Regions from separate parts of the Homo sapiens genome. Here region 1 is linked to region 2. Evidence: fine-mapped expression QTL. A gene starts in region 2. The other region holds a variant in brackets. All regions are shown on one strand. Distances are between the middles of the regions. Region 1 overlaps TPD52L1 (TPD52 like 1). Region 2 holds the start of TPD52L1 (TPD52 like 1).

Region 1 (5,384 bases), 26 kb before region 2:
TGTGTGTGTGAATTCATATGTGATATGTAAACACACAGTAATTTTTAAATACTTGGCACACAAGCTGCTTAAGTTCCCTGGGCCTCTGTTTACTCGTCTGTGAAATGATGATGCCATCACCTACTGCACAGTTGTGGTTTGGAAAAGATTAAATGGAATCGATCCTGTATGGCAATATTTACTGACAGTTCTTCAGGGCTGGGAGGCCAAGAAACTGTAGGGAGAATGGTATCTGACAGCTAATCAAGTGCTCTCAACAGCCTGGCTCTCTCAGCTTCTCTCAGTCAAGTTAACTAAATGTCCCCTTTTTTCATTTACTCCAGAAGCAAAGGCCACTTTAAGAAGCTGTACCCAATGCCTGGAACATCATCACACTTCCAGATGGCAGGTTCCCTCCCTTTCTACCTTAAACCAACTCTCAAAAACCACCCCCTCAATGATCCTCTCCTGACTACCAGAGAGGGTAACACTCATCAGCACCTCACTCTCCTGAAAAATGCTACTCCTGCAACACTTTGCTCACGACTCCAGCTCACGATTCCTAAAAAAGGCAGCTGTGCTTATACATCATGAAAAGTGACAAAAGTCACACAGCGCTGTGCACTTGATCAGTGTTTGCATGCTTTCCCTGGGCTCTACATGCTTCTGATGTTTGCACATCTGCCCTAGAGAAAGCACAGAATTGGTTTAAATTGGTTTGTATGATGCCCAGCCAAGTAATATATGTTTATAAATATTAGCTTTTAAAAGGCCCCAGGCAGTTACTCATCATCTATACCTACCTGCCTTTCAAGTGGCTCTTGGTCATTATCCTTACCTGGTTTCTAGAAAGTACAGCTGCAGAGAAGTACATCTGTGCCTCCCTAATGCCAGAGGTATCCGAGGGGAAGCCTTGTCCATAAAAACTGACATGAAGGGGTGATCTAGACCAGGGCCATCTGGGGAGTGGCTGTGCAAAGCCAACTTTCCAAATCAAACTCCATTGCCCTAAAATTATCCTAATATCCCTGAAACACCTTGGTTCGTGGAGTCAGTGCAGAATCTAATACTGACTTGCTCCCAGTTATCCTGGAAAATCTTGGCCTTTGATGATCTGGGAGAAGACAATATGTCCAAAGATCTATGGCTTGCACCACGCCAATGTAAACTGGCAAGTCCTAGATATTCAGAGTTATCTGTGCTGATACAATTTAGCATCCATTCTAGTTCATCAGAAAAACACTATGTATCCCCAGAATCTATGCATGGCCTAGCACAAGGAAGATGTTTACCAAATGTTTGTGAGTAAATAAATATTATCGTAAAATAACACATGCTTCAATTTAGGTCTTTCCTCAGTACTCGTGTAAAACACATGCATTCTTTATCTGTTCATAGTTTGATATTTAAATCCCATGATGTTGATTAAGTCTCAGTTTTGTTTCCTCTATCTCTATGCTCTCTAGAAAATGGACAGCATATACATAATAATGTAAAACAGCGAGCACCTCTTGACACCATCGCCAAACCCCTCAAATGTCTTAGTTCTTTGTGTATCCTGGCGTAAATGTTTCTTGGTGCTCTTAGAGAGGTCATTCAGTTCTCTTGGTTATTCCTACATCCTTCTGCGTGAGTATCTTATGTTCTGACCTCTTAGTCATCCTGAATTTTGATCTTGACATAGTTCTTTATGCTAATCATTTAGATCAGATATTATCAGGTTTACTACTTAATTACTACAAATTAATTACTATAGTATATAAGTAAATAAAATAAATAACATTATAATATTAACATCGTATTCATTACTGGGTTCACTGCCATCAGATTCTTCACCTTTCCAGATCTTAAAGAGAAAAACAAACTGTAGGCTCGAACCCAACTTCTAAGAATGCCTTAAGCCATCATTTCTTCCCCTTCCTCTGGTTCTAGCTTTGTAATCTGCACAAGAGCAACACCAGCCTCCTTCATGCCACCAGAAAGGGCTGTGAATACAATCAGATATACTGAAAAGCATTCAGCAAACATAAAGACCTATGATAATAGCAAGTCATTTGGCTGCAACTCTGTGGGCCTCCGAAGCAGGAAGCTGCTGTGATTTTCTTCCTTTATTTAAAATAATTCTGAACAAGTAAATAGAAAACATTTTTCATACCTGAATGCATCATTAGAAGGACCAGGAAACAAGTGTTTTATGCAGATGTTAAACAGCTCTCCTTCATGTTTTCCATTGTAAGTTGAATTCTCCAGAATGGGGTAATTAACACTCTCCTTTACGTCCTCTATCAAGAAAAGGCTAAATAGCTCTCCCTCTCTGTGTGTGTGTGAGTGTGTGTGTGTGTGTGTGTGTGTGTATATATAATATATGTGTGTGTGTGTATGGTAAATGTATATTTAAAAACTGTGTGCCACATTTAATTTGCAAATTCTTATATGTGTCAGTAATTTCAGGACCTTCAAAGTTAGGGTAATTTTTGATCAATTTTAAAAAGTTATAAACTGTGCTTGGCATTAACTGTGTCAAACTGACCATAAGAGGTGGTAGATAATTCTGGGAAAGACTCAATTTCAAATAAATCTGTGAAAATGTAATAGTACGAGCCTGACTTTCTTTTCCTATCTTCCTTC[G/C]CTTCCACCTTCTCCCCAAAAAAGAATCAAATTGGCTTATAACATCATATATGATGAAGTAATAATTACATAGAAATAAACAAGGGCTGTGCAGCAGTTTTTAAAATGACAGAGGGAAAGTGAGACATTTGAGGACTCCCAAAGCCTCTGAGTACAACAGTTACCCATGTGATAGAGTGAGAACTGAGGAACAGTGATGACCAGAGCCACAGGTTAAGGTCATGAAAGGGCATTGTCAGGACAGCATCAGAGTTCCGTCCAGTGATGGATACAGGTGCACTCAGACTCCAGGTAGAAAGTAAGTTTTCTAGTTGAAGTGGCTTTCAAACACCCTCCCTTAACAAGATTGTCAAGATGATGCTCCCCAGAGCAACACAGCCCTCTTAAAAAACCACTCCTGAATTTTCCTTAGAATGCCCAAATAATGGTATAGTGCATGAGAGCAGAAAAAAACTCCCTTTAAGTAAGAGCTGCCTTCTTCACATTTCCATCTATAAAGAGAACCCTGGTATTTAGAGTGGGATAACTGAATGAACAGAAAAAGAATTTAGTTAGTTCTATTGAATGAAAATAAATAAATGAAAGTTCATCCTGACATATTGAAGCTATCCTGTGAAAAAGAACTTACACCTGAATATACAACAGGCATGATAAAATGATCAGTATTGTAAAAATAAAACAGTGGTACCGCTCATATTATCCTGAAGCCTAAATACAAAGGGAAAGGGACTATCTGCTTGTGAAATGCTTTGAGGGATTTTTAAAATAAGCATTAAACCATTAATAGTAAGGAAAACTAGCATTCATAGAGTGGTTCTTAGTTTAGACAGTGCTTTGGGACACATAGGGATTCTTATAATTCCTTTTCACACTTGAGGAAGTCCAGTTTTTGAGCAGTTGCCTGCAATCAAGAGGCTGAGTGGGACATGACCCTATGTCATTGAGCTGCACTATTCTGCTTTAAACAACATGTATTGAGGGACTACTTGGGTAAACCCATTGTGTTCTGCAGGACACAGTAATAAATGAGAAACAAAACAGAGCTAAGACATAATAGTATTTGTCCTCTTGAAGTTCTCCATCCTCTTGGAGAGCTAAAATTAATCAGGAAAGTGACTGGGAAAATTGTGTCCACATTTCAGGACAAAACCAAGAGGGATGCCCAGAATTCAGCCAGATATGTCTGTTAAGACTGAGTGGTCTGAAGAATCTGAAGGACTTCAGGGCTGTGTCAAAGGTAGTTCCACTTGGGTGGGAAGTCTGTTTACATTATTTTAAGAGCCAAAGACATACAAAATCCAATCAAATAATGTAGGGCTACAAGTTTCCCTTTGGAAGTCAGGGAGTTGTGGACAAACAATAATAAGTTCAGAGTATTCACCAGAGTCACCAGTGGGAATCCAGTCAACATAACAAGCCAAATCTCCAGTCCTTGTACAACCTCAAGTGTACTCAGAATGTAACACCTCTCTATTGGGAAGTAGCCTAAATTAATTAATAAGGTCTTTGTGCAGAGTATTAATCCTAGAAAAAGGTAGCATCATCTGCAACCACCATTCCACCCATCCCTCACATTTCACATCCTGCCTTCATTGATTTTTTCTTTAACATTTACCCAAATATATATATATATATATTTTGTTTTGTTTTGTTTTGTTTTGTTTTGTTTTGTTTTTAGATGGAGTCTCACTCTGTCGCCCAGGCGGGAGTGCAGTGGTGTGATCTTGGCTCACCACAACCTCCACTTCCCGGGTTGAAGCGATTCTCCTGCCTCAGCCTCCTGAGTAGCTGGGACCACAGGCATGTGCCACCACGCCTGGCTAAGTTTTGTATTTTTAGTAGAGACAAGGTTTCACCATATTGGCCAGGTTGGTCTTGAACTCCTGACCTTGTGATCCTCCTACCTCAGCCTCCCAAAGTGGTGGGATTACAGGCATGAGCCACCACACCTGGCCTATGTTTTTTACTAATTTATGTTGCTTACTATTTGCCCCTTCCTTAGAATTTGAGCCTCACAAGAATAGAAATTTTTATTTTGTTTGCTAATGTTTATCTAGAGCCTAGAGTATTGCCTGGCACACAGGTATATTTTAGATAATTATTGAATGAAGAAATAAATAAAGCAAAATCATAGAACTAGTCGTTTTGTGACAAGGCACTTGAATATTTGTTATTTTATATTATGATCGAAAGAATATGGTCTATTGAGAGACTATCAGGCTTATAATTATAATTTTAAATGTTTAATTTGGTTAATGGCTTAAACTTGGGATTTTTAAGTGGAAATGTTACTAAATTTGTAAGTAATATTGAAACAGCTAAAGAGAATTTTTAGATTCACTTTTTATATACTTAGCTTTTAAATTTATAAGATTTAAGTACTTAGGAAGGCTAGTCAAATAGAAAATTGAAGTGCTTAAATATGAAATTGAGTATATTAATTGAATGTGTATATCAGTTAATATCATACTATTTAAATATCATATTTATCAAAGTCGCTTTAAAAGTAATGGTTTGTTAATTTTATAAATAGTATAACACTTGCAAGCTTCACTTAAAAGTGGAAATTTTCTAAACCTGAAACTTTAATTTAAAAATGTTAACTTTTTAATTAAAAATAAGCCTCTAAACAGTCTCTTCAATAAGACATATGGATGAATAACTGCAATGTGCTGCAGAAGGTGAAGGGCTGATAATACAGAGAAAGGATCACAGGGCTGTAGTAAGAAAACCTCAGTTCTTTTTCTGGTTTTCCCATGTATAAGATACTAGCTCAG
Region 2 (5,384 bases):
GATCCTCCCACCTCAACCTCCCAAATAGCTGGGATACAGGCACGCACCACCACACCCAGCTAATTTTTGTATTTTTTGTGGAGACAGCGTTTCACCATGTTGCCCAGGCTGATCTCAAACTCCTGGGCTCAAAAAATCTGTCTCCTCCAGCCTCCCAAAGTGCTGGAATTACAGGTGTGGCTGGCCTTTTTTGTATCTCTCTCTTTTTTTTTTTTTTTTTGAGACAAGGTCTCACTCTTGTCCAGACTAGAGTGCAATGCTGGGATTTTGGCTCACTGTAGCCACAAACTTCTGACCTCAAGCAATCCTCCCACTCCAGCCTTCCAAGTAGCTAGGCCTACAGGCACATGCCACCACACTCAGCTAATTCTGTTTATTTTTTGTAGAGATGAGGTCTCTCTATGTTGTCCAGGCTGGTCTCGAACTCCTGGGCTCTAAGTGATCCTCCTACCTTGGCCTCCCGAAGTGCTGGGATTACAAGTGTAAGCCACTGCACCTGGCCTCTTAAGTATTTATTAAATCTGTTCACTTTTCTCATATCCATTTGCCTTTTTACTAGTCCTCTTTACACCTAAAGTTTCCATCCAGTCATGAGGGGAAAGGAAGAGCACCACAGGACAGCTGGAGATTCAGGTGGGGACTGAAGTTTTACCTTTCCTCCAAAAGTCATAGGCTTTGAGTGAGAATGGGTCCCTCACAGCATCCACTTTGCTACTTTTTACCTATCTGGCTGTAAACAAGGAACTTATTAAAAAGTCATGGCAAAAATTGCAATTACTTTTGCACCAACCTAATACCTTCCATGCTTGTTTCCTCTCTGTAGAATGGGAATGAGAATATGAACTACCTCATGGGACTGCTGCGCACAGGAAATGAGTCCATCAATACATGCAAAGCACGAAGAACAGAGACAGGGACACAATAAACAATCTGCTCTTCTGATTATTGCATACTAGGGTTATAGTTTTTCAGGCTCTCGCTGCACTATGAGGCCCTTTCTTAGCATCAGCATGGCAGTGATTTTACATGTTATTTTTCAAATAGCTATCAAATTAATATTTGTCTCTTCCTCTACTGTAAATTTTATGAAGCAGATACCAAGTCTGTCTTTGCTCTTCTTAGCACAGTGCTTGGCAAAGGAAAGCACTGAAATATTTGTTAAGTAAATCTTGGAAGTAAAGCAAAGCAATAAAGCAAACCAGTGACACCAGTGGTTACCAGTCTGTAGTTTCGGATGTCTTCAGAAGTTGTATGAATGTTTCCTATCTGCTATAGTTCTTCTCCATCCTCACTAATATAAGCTTTCAAATATACCCATGTTCAGGTTCCAAAGATTCCAGTTTGACTGGGATGGGGTTGGCCAAGGCCAGTAATGAAGACTCTCTAAATAATTCTAATATGCAAGTCAGGTTGGAAAGCTCCGGTGCTGCTCCCACCAGCTTCAGTTCTGGCGTGAAGGCCTCCAACCTGACCTCTGCTTTTGAATTTGACCAACTGCCCTCACCCTTGGTTGAATTATCATTTCCTATCTACATAATAGAGGAAAAAATATGGGAAGCGGCAGCTTTACGGGCAGGACTTAGGAGGATGGAACAAACGAGTAAGGTTCGTGCTGTTCAGACAATTGTAATCCTGGCAGCAAACCTGTTGGGCGACTCCAGGCCCACGCAATCGCCAACCCACTCTCATTCAGGGCGTTCTGCCCCTAGAGGGCGAGCGCATCAGGTCATGAACCTTTTTTTTTTTCTTTTTAATGAGATTTTATCTATACTAAGAGCCAACACAGAGTTTCCTACTGTGTAAAAGAATGGTGGCTTTGATTGCCTTAAAGGCTGAACTCCGCAAGCCATCCCTTCTGGGCGTTGCTCCCCAAGGTAGATCACTGAGTCCGTTTCCTTCCCACTTGTCTCTCGCTCCACATCCGCCCACCTCTGCCCCTTTCCACGGTCCGTTTACCCCCATTCTTGAACGATTCCATCGGAATTCCCCAACCCTGTTCCAAGTGTGACCCCAAGATATGAGGCCGCCCTTCCTGAAGCCACCGCAGGCTCCTCCAGCAGGCAGCCCCGGGAGCAGGGAGCTGGGCGGCCGGGGGCCCCGCGCGCCACGGGAGGCAGAGGTCGCTCCCCGATCGCGGAAACCGGGACTCACGTGTGGATCTGCTGGAGGTCAGGGGGCCGGTAACGTTCACCTGGCCTCGGAAGGCGGGTCCCCGAGCGGGAAGCGTCTCGCGCAGCCGGGCTGCGGAGCCACCCCCTCGGCGGGCGATCCTCTCACTCCCTAACTTGGGAGCCACAAGCCGCGAGTCCACGGCGCTGGGCGAAAAGAGTCACATTCCCTCCCCACTCCCTCAAGGGAAAGGGAGCGAAACACGCTTTCCGGACCCGGCACAACAGGTCCTTCGGGCAGCCGCGAGGTTGGGAAGGCCAGGGGCGACTGGCTGCGGAAGAGGGTAGAGCATTCCACGGGCGCATTTCCTGAGGAGGGGCCTCTCCACTTACGGATCCCCTGTCACTTTATTGATCCCCAGACCCACAGCAAATCCTGAGTTTGGGCAGCAGGCATTATACCAAAGGCGCGGGTGGGAGTGGAGTTCTGGATGTGCAACACGGCACCAATCTGTTCTGTCCGAGAGCGAAGTTAGGTGGTGCAGGAAAAGAGCCTTTATGCGCGCCCCAGGACCTGACTCTCGGGGCGATCGGCGACCACTCACCTTGTGCCTGCGCCTCCATGGTGGCTGACTTCGAGCTGAGGGCGGCGGGGACACCCTGGTGCTTCCCAGAGCAGATGGCAGCTGCGCCCAGGCTCAGAACGCAGCTGGCCCCGCCGCTCGCTCCCACTCCTGGCACGCGTGTCGCGAGCGCTGCGCGGAGGGGGTTGGGGACGCAGGCAGCCGCCACTAGCCGCTTCTGGTTACCTCCGCCCCTTCCAGTCCACCTGGCCCAAACCAAGCTGGAACAAGCTCGCCGCTGGGCGCCACCTGCCGGCGCTCTGTACAGCCGGCGGAAGGCACCCACTCCCGGCGCTATAAGGGCATAACGCAGAGATATTGCAGGTTAGGTTCCAGACCCCCGCAATAAAGCGAGTATTGCAACAAAACGAGTCACACGAATTTTTCAGTTTCCTAATGCATATAAAAGTTACGTTTGCACTATGCTGTAGTCTGTTAAGTATGCAATAGCACGATGTCTAGAAAGAGCAATGTACCTACCTTAACTTAAAAAGATATTTTATTTCTAAAAAATGCTAAAGATCATCTTCACCTAATGGGAATCTTTTTGGTGGTGGAAGGCATTGCTTGGATGTTGATGGCTGCTGATTGATCCTGGTAGTGATTGCTGAAGGCTGCAATAGCTGTGTCAATTTCTTAAAATGGGACAACAATGAAGTTTGCTGCATCAATTGACTCTTCCTTTTATGAAAGATTTTTCTGTAGCATGCAATGCTGGTTGATAGCATTTTATCTACATTATAACTTTTTTCAAAATTGGAGTCAATCATCTCAAACCCTGCCATTGCTTTATCAACTAAGTTTATATAATTATAAATCTTTTGCTGTCATTTCAACAATGCTGTGAACAACTTCACCAGGAGTAGATTCCATTTCAAGTAACCATTTTCTTTGCTTGTCCATAAGAAGCAACTCCTCAACCATTCAAGTCTTATGAGATTGAGCAATTTACTCACATATTCAGGCTCCACTTCTAATTCTAGTTCTCTTGCTATTTCTACCATATCTGCAGTTACTTCCTGCTTTGAAGTCCTGAACTCCCAAAGTCATTCAGGAGGGTTGGAATCAACTTTTTCCAAACTCCTGTTAATGTTGACGTTTTGACTTCCTCCCACGAATTATAAATGTTCTTAATGGCATCTAGAATGGTGAATCTTTTCCAGAAGGTTTTCAATTTACTTTGCCCACATCCAACAGAAGAATCACTATTAATGGCAGCTATCTATTTATTTCTTAAATAATAAGGCTTGAAAGTCAAAATTACTCCTTTATCCATGGGCTACAAGATGAATGTTGTTTTGCCAGGCATGAAAACAACATTAATCTCTTCGTACATCTCCATCAACTGTTGAGTGACAAAGTATATTATTAACCAATATTAAGCAATAATATTTAGAAAGAAACATTTTTTGAGCAGTAAGTCTTAATAGTGGGCTTAAAAATATTCAATAAACCATGCTGTAAACAGATGTACTGTCATTCAAGTTTTGTTGTTCCATTTATAGAGCACAGGTGGAATATATTTAGCATAATTCTTAAGGGCTTTAAAATTTTCAGAATGGTAAATGAGCTTTGGCTTCAATGTAAAGTCACCAGCTACTTTTGCCCCTAACAAGAGAGTCAGTTTGTCCTTTGAAGCTTTGAAACCAGGTATTGACTTCTTTGTAGCTGTAAAAGTCCTTGGTAGCATCTTCTTCCAATATAAGGCTGTTTCATCCGTATTGAAAATGTGTTGTTTCGTGTAGCTACCTTCATCAATGATCTTAGCCAGATCTTCTGGAGAACTTGCTGCAGCTTTGACATCAGCCCTTGCTGCTTCACCTTACATTCATGTTATGGAGATGACTTCTTTCCTTAAGCCTCATGAGCCAGTCTCTGCTAGCTTCCAACTTTTCTTCTACAGATTCCTCACCTCTCTCAGGCTTTATAGAATTGAAGAGAGTGAGGGCTTTGCCCTGGATTAGGCTGTGGTTAAGAGAATGTTGTGACTGCTTTGATCGGGTTTGATCCAGACCACTCAAACTTTCCCCATATCAGCAAGAAAACTGTTTCACTTCCTTATCGTTTGTGTATTCACTGGAGTAGCACTTCTACTCTCCTTCAAGAAGTTTTCTTTTGCATTCACAGCTTGAATAACTCGTACAAGAGACCTAGCTTTTGGCCTATCTCAGCTTTCAACATGCCTTCCTCACTAAATTTAATCATGTCTAGCTTTCGATTTAAGGTGAGAGACATGTGACTCTTCCTTTCATGTGAATATTTGGAGGCGATTGTAGGGTTATTAATGAGCGTAACTACAATATTGTTGTGTCTCAGAGAATGGAGAGGCCTAAGAAGAGGGAGAGAGATGGGGAAATGGCTGGCTGGTGGAGCAGTCAGAACACACACAAGATTTATTGATTCAATTCACTGTCTTATATGGGCATGGATCAGGGTTCCCCAAAATAATTACAATGGTAACATCAAAGATCACTCATCCCAGATCACCATAACAGATATAATATAATGAAAAAGCTTGAAATATTGTGAGAATTACCAAAATGTGACACAGAGACATCAAGTGAGCACATGGCATTGGAAAAATGGCACCAATAGATTTGCTCAACATGGGGATGCCACAAACCTCCAATTTGTTAAAAACGCGATAGCTCAC

Evidence for each region. PIP is the estimated chance that this variant, and not a neighbour inherited with it, causes the effect. A credible set is the group of variants that fine-mapping cannot tell apart.
Region 1: its variant is the best candidate, but not a certain one, in a credible set for the expression of TPD52L1 in gastroesophageal junction (GTEx, PIP 0.53).

The regions. Positions count from the first base shown.
Region 1 is chr6:125,177,519-125,182,902 of GRCh38, reverse strand. The region is part of intron 1 of TPD52L1 (TPD52 like 1); the gene reads right to left. Among named protein-coding and RNA genes, the nearest start is that of TPD52L1, 26 kb to the right of the region's middle. The variant G/C (reference allele first, on the strand shown) is at 2,608.
Region 2 is chr6:125,151,300-125,156,683 of GRCh38, reverse strand. TPD52L1 (TPD52 like 1) reads right to left here and starts at 2,911. Exons shown (of 7, transcript NM_003287.4): 1 at 2,714-2,911. The coding sequence starts at 2,732. RefSeq lists an enhancer at 1,528-2,115.